4 linked regions of the Homo sapiens genome follow. The gene in region 4 interacts genetically with the main gene of each other region. Each region holds a gene or a part of one and is shown on either strand. Other genes may lie near its edges.

The links.
Region 1: changes in ZNHIT6 (region 4) and NSMCE1 together harm fitness less than expected from each alone (positive genetic interaction), as found in Homo sapiens cells (one large-scale study listed by BioGRID).
Region 2: changes in ZNHIT6 (region 4) and NACA together harm fitness less than expected from each alone (positive genetic interaction), as found in Homo sapiens cells (one large-scale study listed by BioGRID).
Region 3: changes in ZNHIT6 (region 4) and NOP58 together harm fitness more than expected from each alone (negative genetic interaction), as found in Homo sapiens cells (one large-scale study listed by BioGRID).

Annotation. Positions count from the first base shown.
Region 1 is NC_000016.10:27,234,273-27,237,772, forward strand, and holds part of NSMCE1 (non-structural maintenance of chromosomes element 1 homolog), read right to left. Parts: intron 1,028-3,500; coding exon 906-1,027; intron 1-905. UniProt on the Homo sapiens protein: RING-type zinc finger-containing E3 ubiquitin ligase that assembles with melanoma antigen protein (MAGE) to catalyze the direct transfer of ubiquitin from E2 ubiquitin-conjugating enzyme to a specific substrate.
Region 2 is NC_000012.12:56,715,300-56,718,799, reverse strand, and holds part of NACA (nascent polypeptide-associated complex subunit alpha), read left to right. Parts: coding exon 1-2,929; intron 2,930-3,500. UniProt on the Homo sapiens protein: Cardiac- and muscle-specific transcription factor. May act to regulate the expression of genes involved in the development of myotubes.
Region 3 is NC_000002.12:202,293,263-202,296,762, reverse strand, and holds part of NOP58 (nucleolar protein 58), read right to left. Parts: intron 1,090-3,500; coding exon 926-1,089; intron 1-925. UniProt on the Homo sapiens protein: Required for the biogenesis of box C/D snoRNAs such as U3, U8 and U14 snoRNAs. Part of the small subunit (SSU) processome, first precursor of the small eukaryotic ribosomal subunit.
Region 4 is NC_000001.11:85,680,934-85,684,433, forward strand, and holds part of ZNHIT6 (box C/D snoRNA protein 1), read right to left. Parts: intron 1-3,500. UniProt on the Homo sapiens protein: Required for box C/D snoRNAs accumulation involved in snoRNA processing, snoRNA transport to the nucleolus and ribosome biogenesis.

The DNA.
Region 1 (3,500 bases), on a different chromosome or scaffold from region 4:
ATAAGTCAGCACGACAGTCAGGCTGTGCTCTTTGCGTGTTGGTTAACGTGTCGCTGGCTCTCCCTCCCTCCCCTCCTCCATCTCTGGCCAGTCACTGAGCTCCTGTATCCAGGCACTGCGGGCCGCAGGGATGGATCTGTAACCAGGCGTATATTACAGACTTTATTCTTTAGCTCAGCCAACATGCTGGGCCCTCAGAAGTTTCAGAACTCCAAAGGGTGTGCAGTATTTTCCAAACTCAGATAAATTTGGGAGATTTGTCTGCATGTTAATGGAGCTTCAAATGCAAAAAAAGCACTGAGAAGTCTGATAGCAAGGAAATCTGCTTTGCCATGTCTGACCAGCATTTCCACAGTTCTTTGACTCTGTAATGTTTTTTTTCCAGGGAATTGAGTTTGGGCAACCCTGGACTAGAGTGCCCCTTTCTGAGTGTGAGCCTGGCTGGGAGCAGCCAGATGTCCTCTGACCAGCTGAGGTGTCTCCTAGCCAGGGATGGGGCATGTCAGCTTCCCACTCCTGTATTTCACCCTGGCTGTATTTCACTCCTGGCTCTGCCATTCTGGCTGTGGCATCCTGAACACATCACGTGGGTGAACGGGGAGTCGGCGGCAGGAGGGATGAGGCCCAAATCCCTACCTGTGAGAGTAAATCTGAAAACCACTGAAGGCCCCACCCACATGGCCTGCAATCCTTGACACTCCTACAGAGTTTCTTTTCATAGCTTCTATGTCTTATTCTAAATAAAAAACCATTTTCTCCCTTTATTCCTAATATTCTATACATTTGGAGTGACTTCTTTGCAAAGAACTGTCCAAAAGAGAAATCAAACCAAAGCAAACACAGGCTGCCTGGGCCCTGTTCCAGCTCCTCAAAAATGCCACTAGAGGGCTCTGCCGGGCACTCACCAACGCATAAATGGGTCTCCCATCATCTTCCGTGACTCCTCTCTTTATCTCAATATACAAGGACTCCAAGACACTGTTAATGTTGTTGATGAAGTCCTCCAACTTATCTACGGTGGCATTGCCTGGAAATAAACAGACCAAAAAAAGGGGGGTGACCAGGGGGCCTCATCAAAAAAATGTAGCTTGCTTGAATCATTCCATCCCATCTCAACGCAGGGGACAGCAACCCCAGACATGGGTGGAGGCTGCAGCCTCTTGGGTGAACGCCAATGCCACGTGGCTTCTTTCTTCCTGGAGTACTTGGAAGACAAACAGACAACAGATGGAGGGCGTTGTGAGGCAGGAGGGCCAGGGAGATGCTATCTGCAACCACGGAGGCTGCCGCGGGCTTCCTGTCTTTGCTCGCTGCCTCCTGATGAGAGTCCCAATCAGCACCTTCAGCGCATTACTCAATGATGTGCTCAGAGCCTGCGTGAGCTCCCGCCGCACAAACATCCTATCCCATCTCAGCCCTTCTATCGCATCCCCAGTGCCCCGCGAGAGGCCTCTGTCCCTGTATGTCCCCACACATCTTAGGTGGAGCTTTATTCCTTTCTCTTTTTATTCAATGTCGGGTTATCCTCACTTACATGCCAGGCTTGTGCTGGGTCCTGGGCTGGAACAGTAAGAATAACAACAAACGGGGTGAGAAGGGTGGCTTGCAGCGAGCCCTCAGCATGGAGAGGCCCTGTCCTGGGCACCTTTTGTCGTCATGAATCCACCCTCCAGCAGCTCTCTGGGCACAGGGGAAGAGGCTGAGACGCAGAGAGGTGAACTGACTCGCCCAGAGTTGCACCACAAGGCCGGGGCTTTGACTTCTCTGTCGCCCACCTCCCCTGGCCCTGCCAGCAGGATGCTCACAGCCCAGGGGCCACCATCCAGGTCCATCAGTCTGAGGAGGGGGCACCCACACTATTGCCGGGGGCTCAGCTGAGGAGGACAGAGAGGCTGCGGTGAGGACAGGAGCCCGTGGCCGGGGACAGCAGGGCCTTTCTCCTGTGGCACCAGGAAGCCTCTGAGCACTGGAAGCAGTGGAAGGACATGGCCAGCGTTGTGTCCCTTTTATGCTGTGAAACTTTTTTTTTTTTTTTTTTTTTTTTGAGACAGAGTCTTGCTCTCGCCCTGGCTGGAGTGCAGTAGCACAGTCTTGGCTCACTGCAACCTCCACCTCCCGGGTTCAAGCAGTTCTCCTGCCTTAGCCTCCCGAGGAGTTGAGATTACAGGCATGCACCACCACACCCAGCTAATTTTTGTATTTTTAGTAGAGATGGGGTTTTACCATGTTGGCCAGGCTGGTCTCGATCTCCTGACCTCAAGTGTTCCGCCCACCTCAGCTTCCCAAAGTGCTGGGATTATAGGCGTGAGCCACCACGCCCAGCTTGTGCTGTGAAACTTTTTAAAGCAAGAGTATGTATTATTGTTTTCACTACTGTTTTTATGTATTAAAATAAATAATTTCAAAAGATTCATGCCTTAGAAAATCATTCTGGAAAAAAAACTGCAAGAAAAAATGGACAATATGATACATTCATGTGTGAAACAAAAACAGAACCAATGAAACAGTCCCACAGGAAAAGGCCCAGCAGGTTACCCACTGGACTGACGACCAAGGCCATCGCCAGGAAGGGACTAAACGAAGGGTCATCACAGGGCACTCGTGCTGTATGTCTGTGTTTGATTTCTTATTAGACAGAGGCATTTCTAAGCTACCCGTACAACTCAAGATTCATAAAGTTAAAAAAAAAAACAACAGAAGATCATGCTGGTGACAATGGAGGATGTGGCCGTGTGAAAGAGTCAAGGAAAACCCAGGCCAATGAGCTCTGTCAGAGGATCAGACTGTGGGGCCCAGAAAAGCTGAGAACAAAGCCCAGGGCAGTGACACTAATGTGCCATGCTCAGCGAGGAGCTAATCTTCCCTTTCAGTTAAGTTTTTAAAAGGCAGTTTAAATTAAAAAGTAGTCATAGTAAGTGGGTGGAACATGGATGTGGTGAGATCGTAACATATGACAATGACATCTGGCCTCGGCGGCTGGAGAGCAGGCATCAGGAGGGAGGCATGGCCTGACTTCCTGCCTCCATGCCCCTGCTCACGGGCCCCTCCTTTCTGAAAACTCCTCTCCCTCCACTGCGGCAGCCACCTTGGATGGCCTGTTTTTCCAGGAAATGTTCTCTTCTGCCCCCGGTGCTGTCTTCCTCTTCCACAGCATGCAAGGCAGCTCTTTGCTGGCGTGGGAGCCGAGCTGTTCCGTACCTGCCTGTGCCAGTGACTTGGCCAGACACACTTTTCCACCCCCAAGGGGAGCCAACGCTGGGCAGCTCAGGTGCAAGAGGCCCAGACATCAAAAAGCCTCGTTCAGTGCGGAGTGAGTGACAGGAACCCTGTCCACCCAGTGTGACACTGGGGCAAGTCCCACCTCTCTGAAAGTGACAATTCACATTTTCCACTAACGAGGCCCCTCCTGGGTATCACTGAGAACAATGTGCCCTGTGGGCAGATGAGAAGCATTCTGATCTATTGGACTTTCCAGACACCCCGTTGCAGGGAGGGAGCCA
Region 2 (3,500 bases), on a different chromosome or scaffold from region 4:
CTATCCATGACTTCTTCCTCCCCCAAAAAGGCCCGAGCAACTCCAGCCCCTAAAGGAATCCCAGCTTCCCCATCCCCCAAAGGGGCCCCCACACCCCCAGCTGCAACTCCTCCCTCCCCTAAAGGAGGCCCAGCTACCCCATCCCCGAAATGGGCCCCCACACCCCCAGCTGCAACTCCTCCCTCCCCAAAAGGAGGTCCAGCTACTCCATCCCCCAAAGGGGCCCCCACACCCCCAGCTGCAACTCCTCCCTCCCCCAAAGGAGGTCCAGCTACTCCATCCCCCAAAGGGGCCCCCACACCCCCAGCTGTGACTCCTCCCTCCCCCAAAGGAAGTCCAGCAGCTACCCCATTCCCCAAAGGGGCATCCACACCCCCAGCTGCAACTCCTCCCTCCCCCAAAGGAAGTCCAGCAGCTACCCCACTCCCCAAAGGGGCCCCCACAACCCCAGCTGCAACTCTTCCCTCCCCAAAAGGAGGTCCAGCTACCCCATCCCTCAAGGGGGCCCCCACTCCCCCAGCTGCGACTCCTCCCTCCCCAAAAGGAGGCCCAGCTACCCCATCCCCCAAAGGGGCCCCCATGCCCCCAGCTGCAACTCCTCCCTCCCCAAAAGGAGGTCTAGCTACCCCACCCCACAAAGGGGCACCCACAACCCCAGCTGCAACTCCTCCCTCCCCAAAAGGAGGTCTAGCTACCCCACCCCCAAAAGGGGCCCCCACAACCCCAGCTGCAACTCCTCCTTCCCCAAAAGGAGGTCTAGCTACCCCACCCCCAAAAGGGGCCCCCACAACCCCAGCTGCAACTCCTCCTTCCCCAAAAGGAGGTCTAGCTACCCCATCCCCCAAAGGGGCCCCCACAACCCCAGCTGCAACTCCTCCCTCCCCAAAAGGAGGTCTAGCTACCCCATCCCCCAAAGGGGCCCCCACAACCCCAGCTGCAACTCCTCCCTCCCCAAAAGGAGGTCTGGCTACCCCATCCCCCAAAGGGGCCCCCACAACCCCAGCTGCAACTCCTCCCTCCCCAAAAGGAGGCCCAGCTACCCCACCCCCCAAAGGGGCCCCCACTCCCCCAGCTGCAACTCCTCCCTCCCTAAAAGGAGGTCTAGCTACCCCACCCCACAAAGGGGCCCCCAATCCCGCAGTTGTAACTCCTCCCTCTCCAAAAGGAGGCCCAGCTACCTCACCCCCCAAAGGGGCCCCCACTCCTCCAGCTGCAACTCCTCCCTCCCCAAAAGGAAGCCCAGGTACCCCACCCCCCAAAGGGGCCCCCACTCCCCCAGCTGTAACTCCTCCCTCCCCTAAAGGGACCCCTACTCTCCCAGCTACAACTCCCTCCTCTAAAGGAGGCCCAACTACTCCATCCTCCAAAGAGGGCCCCACTCCCCCAGCTGCAACCCCCTCCCACAAAGGAGGTCCCGCTATGACTCCTCCCTCCCCCAAAAGAGGACCAGCTATCCCATCTCCCAAAGGGGACCCCACTTCCCCAGCAGTGATTCCTCTCTCCCCCAAAAAGGCTCCAGCAACTCCAGTCACCAGAGAAGGCGCAGCCACCCCATCCAAAGGAGATCTCACTCCCCCAGCAGTGACTCCTGTCTCCCTCAAAAAGGCCCCAGCAACTTCAGCCCCCAAAGGAGGCCCAGCTACCCCATCCTCCAAAGGGGATCCCACCCTCCCAGCAGTGACTCCTCCTTCCCCCAAGGAGCCCCCAGCCCCCAAACAAGTTGCCACTTCTTCCTCTCCCAAAAAGGCCCCAGCAACTCCAGCCCCCATGGGGGCCCCCACTCTGCCAGCTGTGATTCCTTCTTCCCCCAAAGAGGTCCCAGCTACCCCATCCTCCAGAAGGGACCCCATTGCCCCAACAGCGACTCTTCTCTCTAAAAAGACCCCAGCAACTCTAGCCCCCAAAGAGGCCCTCATTCCCCCAGCTATGACTGTTCCCTCCCCTAAAAAGACCCCAGCAATTCCAACCCCCAAAGAAGCCCCAGCTACCCCATCCTCCAAAGAGGCCTCCAGTCCCCCAGCAGTGACTCCTTCCACTTACAAAGGGGCCCCATCCCCCAAAGAGCTCCTCATTCCACCAGCTGTGACTTCTCCTTCCCCCAAAGAGGCACCTACTCCTCCAGCTGTGACTCCTCCATCCCCCGAAAAGGGCCCAGCAACTCCAGCCCCCAAAGGGACTCCCACTTCCCCACCTGTGACTCCTTCCTCCCTCAAAGACTCCCCTACTTCCCCAGCTTCTGTCACATGTAAAATGGGGGCCACTGTTCCTCAAGCATCTAAAGGGCTTCCAGCAAAGAAAGGCCCCACAGCTCTGAAAGAAGTACTTGTTGCCCCAGCTCCAGAAAGCACGCCAATCATCACAGCTCCCACTCGGAAAGGTCCACAGACCAAAAAGAGTTCTGCTACTTCACCTCCTATATGCCCAGATCCCTCAGCTAAGAATGGTTCTAAAGGACCCCTTTCCACAGTGGCTCCAGCCCCTCTACTCCCTGTTCAGAAAGACTCTTCAAAGACAGCAAAAGGCAAAGATGCTTCTCATTCCCCAAAGGGCCCCTTGGCTCCTCCTGAGTCTAAGGCGTCCACCCCTCTAACAGCAGCTGCCTTTGAGAAGGTCCTTCCTAAACCTGAATCAGCATCTGTCTCTGCAGCACCCTCCCCACCAGTCTCTCTGCCTCTTGCTCCCTCCCCAGTTCCCACTCTGCCTCCTAAACAGCAATTTCTGCCGTCCTCTCCTGGGCTGGTGTTGGAATCACCCTCTAAACCCCTTGCCCCTGCTGATGAGGATGAGCTGCTGCCTCTGATTCCCCCGGAACCAATCTCTGGGGGAGTGCCTTTCCAGTCGGTCCTCGTCAACATGCCCACCCCTAAATCTGCTGGAATCCCTGTCCCAACCCCCTCTGCCAAGCAACCTGTTACGAAGAACAACAAGGGTATTTGCCTTGGTTTGCCGTGTGCATGGTGTGTCTGTCGTCCACACCCCTCTTGGGCGCTACCCACCAATACTAACCCTGTGATGCGCCGCTTTCTCCAGTGAATCTGCTTGGGTTTGGATGTAGAACATAGAATGATAATTTTAAATGCAAAAGTTCTAGGAATATGAAACCAAATCTTGGTTTTCATTACTTCAGATAGATACATAGTACATTGTGTATCATTTTTGTGTAATGTGGCCCGGACTACCCTGAGCCTGCCATGCCATCTATTTTACCTAATTGATCTGACATTGAAAACCAAGACCTGCCAGACCTTTTCATTTGCTCTAATCCCTACCACATCACTAACTAACCTTGTCCCTGGGCCTGAGATTTGGTAAAATTATTGGAGAATTGAACTATTTGTATTTATTTTTCCATTATTAGACTTAGTAATGACCAGTTGCCCAGGGACTCCCTTTTCATAAAAATGTAGAAATCTGTTTTTCCTAGCCTGAAAATGGTGCAGGTGTATGCTTTTTTTCCTCAGTAGTCTTTACTGATGCTTGGCCTTTGAATTGAAAGAAAT
Region 3 (3,500 bases), on a different chromosome or scaffold from region 4:
GACTCCATCTCAAAAAACAAACAAACAAACAAACAAACAAACAAAAAAAAGCGTGGGTTCTTTTTCAATCTAATTAACATTTTATTTTATTGAACGCTTTATTTTCCTCCACCACTCTGCTCTAAATTTTATCAATTTTCAGTTTAGATCTGTTAAACGACACATCTTTCAAAAACATTGAAAGTACTTAACTTGTCTAAGCCTCAGTTTCATCATCTGCAAGATAGAGATACCTACATCTCATAAGGCTACTGAAGATTTAGGACAGGCACAGGTGCTCACACCTGTAATCCCAGCACTCTGGGAAGCCGAGGTGGGTGGATCAGGAGGTCAGGAGTTTGAGACCAGCCTGGCCAACATGGTGAAACTGGTCTTTACTTAAAATACAAAAATTAGCCGGGCGTGGTGGCACGTGCATGTAATCCCAGCTACTCAGAAGGCTGAGGCAGGGAGGCAGGAGAATCGTTTGAACCAGGGAGCTGGAGGTTGCAGTGAGCCGAGATCAAGCCACTGCACTCTAGCCTGGCGACAGAGCGGGACTCCATCTCAAAAAAAAAAAGTTTAGTGACTTCTCTCAAAGTGTTTTAGCATAATGCATATGCTATTTTTTATGATTCGTAAATGTTAGATTTTTTTTTTGCTGCCAGAGATAGTATTTTCAGTGTGCCAACCACAGGGAGATTCTAGGGGGGAAAAAAATACTAACACAATGGAAGAAACTGGCTTTAATCCAACCAATAACAGTTTCTTCTAACCTTATCCTTCAGTGTACACAAAGCACTTTTTATTTAAATAACTCACCATTCCCTATTTAACAAGAAAGAGACAATAGAAGATTTAATGTGTACTACAGAGTAGAAGAAAAATGGGTTGTAAAAAATGAAAAAGTCTAACCTCAAAAACAAAGCAAAACCCTATAACACACCTTTCCTTTGTGTTTGGGACTTGTCTGGCCCACGAGTGAAGCATGATAAATGAGACCATACTTAGGGGTATCCCGTCTAGATTTGAGGGCTCTGAAAAGTGCCTTTTCAGCTCCAAGAATCTGAACGGTAGAAGCTGCATGCTTGGCCAAATTTAAAAGAGAACCTACAAAAGAAAAAAGTTACAAAGAATGCACCTCCAAATATATGAATGTTCCACGTACTGAAACAAAAGACCTATAGAATTATTACAGCCACCATAATAAATAAAAATCACATATAATATAGAATTCTATAATCCAGAATTCCCTAAAAATCTTGATGTTTCATTTGTAATTCCTTCATTAGCACAAGCAGGTTTGCAATGAATGCCTAGGACAAACTGAAGGCTAAGCTTATTAAGTTCAATGTTTCTATTCACCTGAGAGATGGCAGTACTATTCTAAATTCCATTAGTATACTACAGGAGTGACATAAATGTCACACACACGAACACTAATCTGGTCCCTGCTTTCTGAGATTGTATCAAATATTCTATTGCTTTAGATATGAAAAAGCCTACAAATAAACACATTTATTAGGAAGAGATATTCCTACAAGTATCTATTAATAGTCCCCTACCTGTGCTTTCACTTTGTGTGGTAAATTACCTGTGGTTAACTGCAGTCTGAAAATATTAAAAAGGAAATTCCAGAAATAAATAGTTCCTAAGTTTTAAATCTCTTGCTATCCCACTCAGCTCCCCCCAGGACATGAATCATCTCTATCTACCCATTAGTCACTTTCGTAGCCCTCTCCGTTGTGCAGTACTGCAGTGCTTATATTCAAGTAACCAATGCACAAAAATAGTTATGCTTGCATTTTTTTTTTTTTTTGAGATAGAGTTTCGCTCTGTTGCGCAGGCTGGAGTGCAGTGGCGCGATCTTGGCTCACTGCATCCTCCGCCTCCCGGGTTTAAGCAATTCTCTGCCTCAGCCTCCGAGTAGCTGGGATTACAGGCACCCACCACTACACCCAGCTAATTTTTTTTTGTATTTTTAGTAGAGATGGGGTTTCACCATCTTGGCCAGGCTGATCTTGAACTCCTGACCTCGTGATCCACCCTCCTCAGCTTCCCAAAGTGCTGGGATTACAGGCGTAAGCCACCACACCCGGCCCTGCTGGCATAGTGTTATAACTGTTATATTATGACTGTTGTTGATATCCTACTGTACCTAATTTATAAGCTAAGCTTTATTATAGATATGTATGTTTAGGAAAAAACAGCATATACAGTATAGGATTCAGTACTATCCTCTGTTTCAAACATTCTTGGAGGGGGGAGCTTAGAATACATCTCCATAAATAGCTGGGGACTATTGTTATCAACATGCTGCTTAGTTGGATATGCTGTATAGAATATTTCCTGTCAGAAAACAGACTCTATTAATACTATGAACTTAAGCACTAGACATAGTTTTAAAAGTGTAACAAATACATAGTTCTTTTTTTTTTTTTTTTTTTGAGATGGAGTTTCACTCTTGTCACCCAGGCAAGCAATGTCACCACTGCTGTGTGCAATGTCACAATCTTGGCTCACTGCAACCTCCACCTCCCGGGTTCAAGCAATTCTCCTGCCTCAGCATCCCGAGTAGCTGGGATTACAGGCTCATGCCACCAAGGTTGGGTAATTTTTGTGTTGTTAATAGAGATGGGGTTTTATTTACCATGTTGGCCAGGCTGGTCTCGAACTCCTGACCTCAGGTGACCCACCCACCTCAGCTTCTCAAAGTGCTGGGATTACAGGCGTGAGCCACCACGCCTGGCCAACAAATACATACTTCTATTAACCCCTGCCATTGCTTACTGCTACAAGTTTAGCTATACCTATGAAAATGGGTAGAGACAATGAAATCATCTGATCTTATAGCTGAGGGCATTTGAATGAAACCTTTGATTAATGATGCAGCTAAAGGAGTTACGCCAGGCCGGGCGCAGTGGCTCACGCCTGTAATCCCAACACTTTGGGAGGCTGAGGTGCGCAGATCACCTGAGGTCAGGAGTTTGAGACCAGCCTGGCCAACATGGCAAAAACCCTGTCTCAACTAAAAATATAAAAATTAGCCAGGCATGGTGGCAGCACATGCCTGTAATCCCAGCAACTTGGGAGCCTGAGGCAGGAGAATTGCTTGAACCTGGGAGGCAGAGGTTGCAGTGAGCCACTGCACTCCAGCCAGTGCAACAGAGTGAAACTCTGTCTCAAACAAAAAAAAAGGAGTTATGCCATTTTAAACACTCTGATGCAGATGATATAATCTTTTTTGATGAATTATAACAATGTCTCCAAGTAACATAAAAATGATGAATCAGTACTTCATTGTATTTGTAGGTATTCAATTACATAGCATTTTAATTATAGCATATCATCCTTATAATACTGCCATACACATATACAAAGTTTTATTATAAATCAGTTGTTGAAAATATTTTTGAAAGTCAAATATATTACATCCTCACACTCAATAGTGAAACTAAGGTAATCAATCAAGGGCACAAATCCTCTACAGTGATTTCTTTTTTTTTTCTTTCTCTACAGTG
Region 4 (3,500 bases):
AAGGTAGATAATAAAAGTCTGGATGCAAATTGAACTTTCTAAATTTTCACTTTAAGATAATTCCAAAATTATTCTTAGACTTTAACATATATTTTCTATTAAGAGCTAATTTCTCTTGCAAGGGTTATTAAGAAAGAAAAAAAAGGGAAGCAGTTCTAAATTCCAAGGACTTCACATTTCTGAATCAGAAAGCAATTTCTCATAGTTCAGGGGCTTTTGGGAGCAGTGTGCTACTATTTGAAGTTTACAAATAAATTTCCTCATGACTAAATACAATGAGCTGATGTCTTTGCTTGACTAGTCTGGAAATTAGGTGAATGAAGTATTGTCCGGTTGAGTCCAGCTGGCTGGAGATACACTTCTGAGGCATGAGTACGTGCATTCAGTAGCAAAACAGGAGACAACAAGCTGGTTGCTAAGCAGAATGCACTTTGAGCTACAGTCTTTTTGCTTTCAGGTCTAAACTTTGGTTTGACATAGCATCAACAGCAATAACTCACTAAATGTCTGATTTTAGAAAAATGACTATATTTAATATATCTAAATTTAGAGACATTGACATGATTCCTTCTTTAAAAATTCTAATGCTCAAAATATTGAATCCAATACAGAAATTTAAATGTCTTCACTACATGATGATTTTACACAATGTTTTCCTTACTTAGAAGAAATTTCTAACAATCCATTAGAGCAAGTTAATGACTACCGATATCTCCTTAAAATCTATCCCATAGCAGTAGGACCCCAAAATCTAAAATAATTTTCTTTTAATACAATCTATCTTTCACCAAACATCTATATGATTTAGTAGAATTTCTGTCAGAAGACAAAGAACATAATTTTATTGAGAACAAAGTTGAAAAGTACCCTTTACTAATCTAAAGGACAGATGTCTAAAATCTCAGAGGAAAAAACATTTAAAAATTTGAATGCAAAAGCAACAGTTACTAGTTTTAAATAAATAATTCTTCCAAAATAAAACATTTTGCAATATTCATTATCTGTGAAATAGGAATACCATAATAGCATTATCACAAGGCTGACTTTTTTTTTTTAATAAGAAATAAACAGATTTTGTTCATCTTTTTTTTTTTTTTTGAGACGGAGTTTCGCTCTGTTGCCCAGGCTAGAGTGCAGTGGCATGATCTCGGTTCACTGCAAGCTCCGCCTCCCGGATTCACACCATTCTCCTGCCTCTCTCCTGAATAGCTGGGACTACAGGTGCTCGCCACCACGCCCGGCTAATTTTTTTTTTTTTTTTTTGGTATTTTTAGTAGACACAGGGTTTCACTACGTTCGCCAGGATGGTCTCGATCTCCTGACCTCGTGATCCACCTGGCTCGGCCTCCCAAAGTGCTGGGATTACAGGCATGAGCCACCGCACCCGGCCTCATTTTGTTCATCTTAATGCATAATATAGTTTCTTCCTAAATGTATGTTTTTTCAGGTTAACTTAGGGAAAAAAAGGATTACCAACTTGCCATCTTATGGAATTGTAAACCATACTCAATCACCCCAATTCTTGCTTGAGTAATTTCAAAAACCATTCGCCTTTTAACATTTAATACACCCTGAATACATTCAGAAAGCACTTAACATTCCAAACACAGAGAGAAAAGCCCTCGGAAATCATTTTATTTGTTGTAGTTAACTAGCTCTACTTATAACAAAGTCATTCATTGCTATACATTGCCAAATTATTGATAAAAATATTTCTATATTTGGCCTCAGCTCACACATGAACAAATCTGAAAAGTACACTAACTTTTAAAATGTGATCTTCCAATATTTCAAAAACAAAGAAAAACAGAATAATGTAAAGAACACTCAATGCACCCATATTCAGATTTAACTCATTTACAAATTGCCGTATTTTTGAGGTACTTTTATTTCTTCTAAGAAATAAAGGGCTATTGATAACAGTAGATGATTCTTTATATGTACTTTAACCCAAGGTGGGCAAACAGAAGTTGAAGGGTGTTGTATAAAGAACTGCTGGGGATGGGCGCAGTGGCTAAAGCCTGTATAATCCCAGCAATTTGGGAGGCCAAGGTGGGCGCATCGTTTGAGCCCAGGAGTTTGAGATCAGCCTAGGCAACATGATGATACCCCATCTCTACAAAAAATACAAAAATGAGCCAGGCATGGTGGCGTATGCCTATAGTCCCAGCTACTCTGGAGGTTGAAGTGGGAGAATCACCTGAGCCCAGGAGATTAAGGCTGCAGTGAACTGCGACTGCGTCACTGCACTTCACCTGGGTGACACAATGAGACCCTGTTTCAAAAAAAAGAAAAAATTGCTAGGCCAGGCAAGGTGGCTCACGCCTCTAATCCCAGCACTTTGGGAGGCCAAGGTGGGCAGATCATGAGGTCAGGAGATCGAGACCATCCTGGCTCACATGGTGAAACCCCGTCTCTACTAAAAACACAAAAAATTAGTCAGGTGTGGTGGCATGTGCCTGTAGTCCCAGCTACTCGGGAGGCCGAGGCAGGAGAATCACATTGCTTGAACCCGGGAGGCGGAGCTTGCAGTGAGCTGAGATTGAGCCACTGCATTCCAGCCTGGGCGACAGAGCAAGATTCCGTCACAGAAAAAAAAAAAAAAAATTGCTGAAATGGGTGAGTTAATTTTCTCTAAAATGGTTTCCAATTCTTCAGTATTGCTGAAATTACTGTAAGTCCTGACATGTGTTCTTCTTAAGACTGAAAGAATTAAGCTTGTTTCTCATTTTTTTATAATTATATATACAAATATATGTCCCACTTAAAAAAATATACATACATCAAAATCCTAGCAACATTACTTGGATTACTTTCTAAAGCTAGATTCCAAGAAGTACAATCACTAAGACAGAGCAGGGTTTCTCAATCTCAGCAGTGCTGATATTTTGGACTAGATAATTCTTTGCAAAGGACTTGGTCCTTTGCACTGCAGGACGTTTAGCAGCATCCTAGGACTCCACCCTCTAGATGAGTGTTCCACTAGGAACACTCATACACCCAGTTGTGGCCACCAAAAATGCTCCCAGAAATTGCAAATGTCCCCTGGAAGCAGAATCATCACTGTTTGAGAACCACAAGGATAAAGGTTTGAACATTTACAATTACTCCTAATGCATTAGAGCTACTGTTCCCTAAATTCAACAAAATGCCTTCAACTACAATAATGTCACTATACCCTTGGCATATCAACGTTCTCAAAAATGGTATTACTATACCTAGTATATTCTAGGTAACTTAGGGACTCCAAGATACCATGTTTAGAGTTGGGTGATAAGACTGGTGGAGTAATTGTGGCAACTTAATCCTTATGTTCCCTTCTGGACAATCTGACAAAGCAACAGAAACACTAACCTCTTCTGAGTCCTATGAAACCCAAGTAACTATTCATGCATAGCAAAGCTGTTTCCCTCTCCTCCTCTAAATATCAATACACACATGCATTCTCAATGAGGGCAGCATGGCCCCAAAGAGGGCAAAAACTGGTTCTCTGAAGGGCC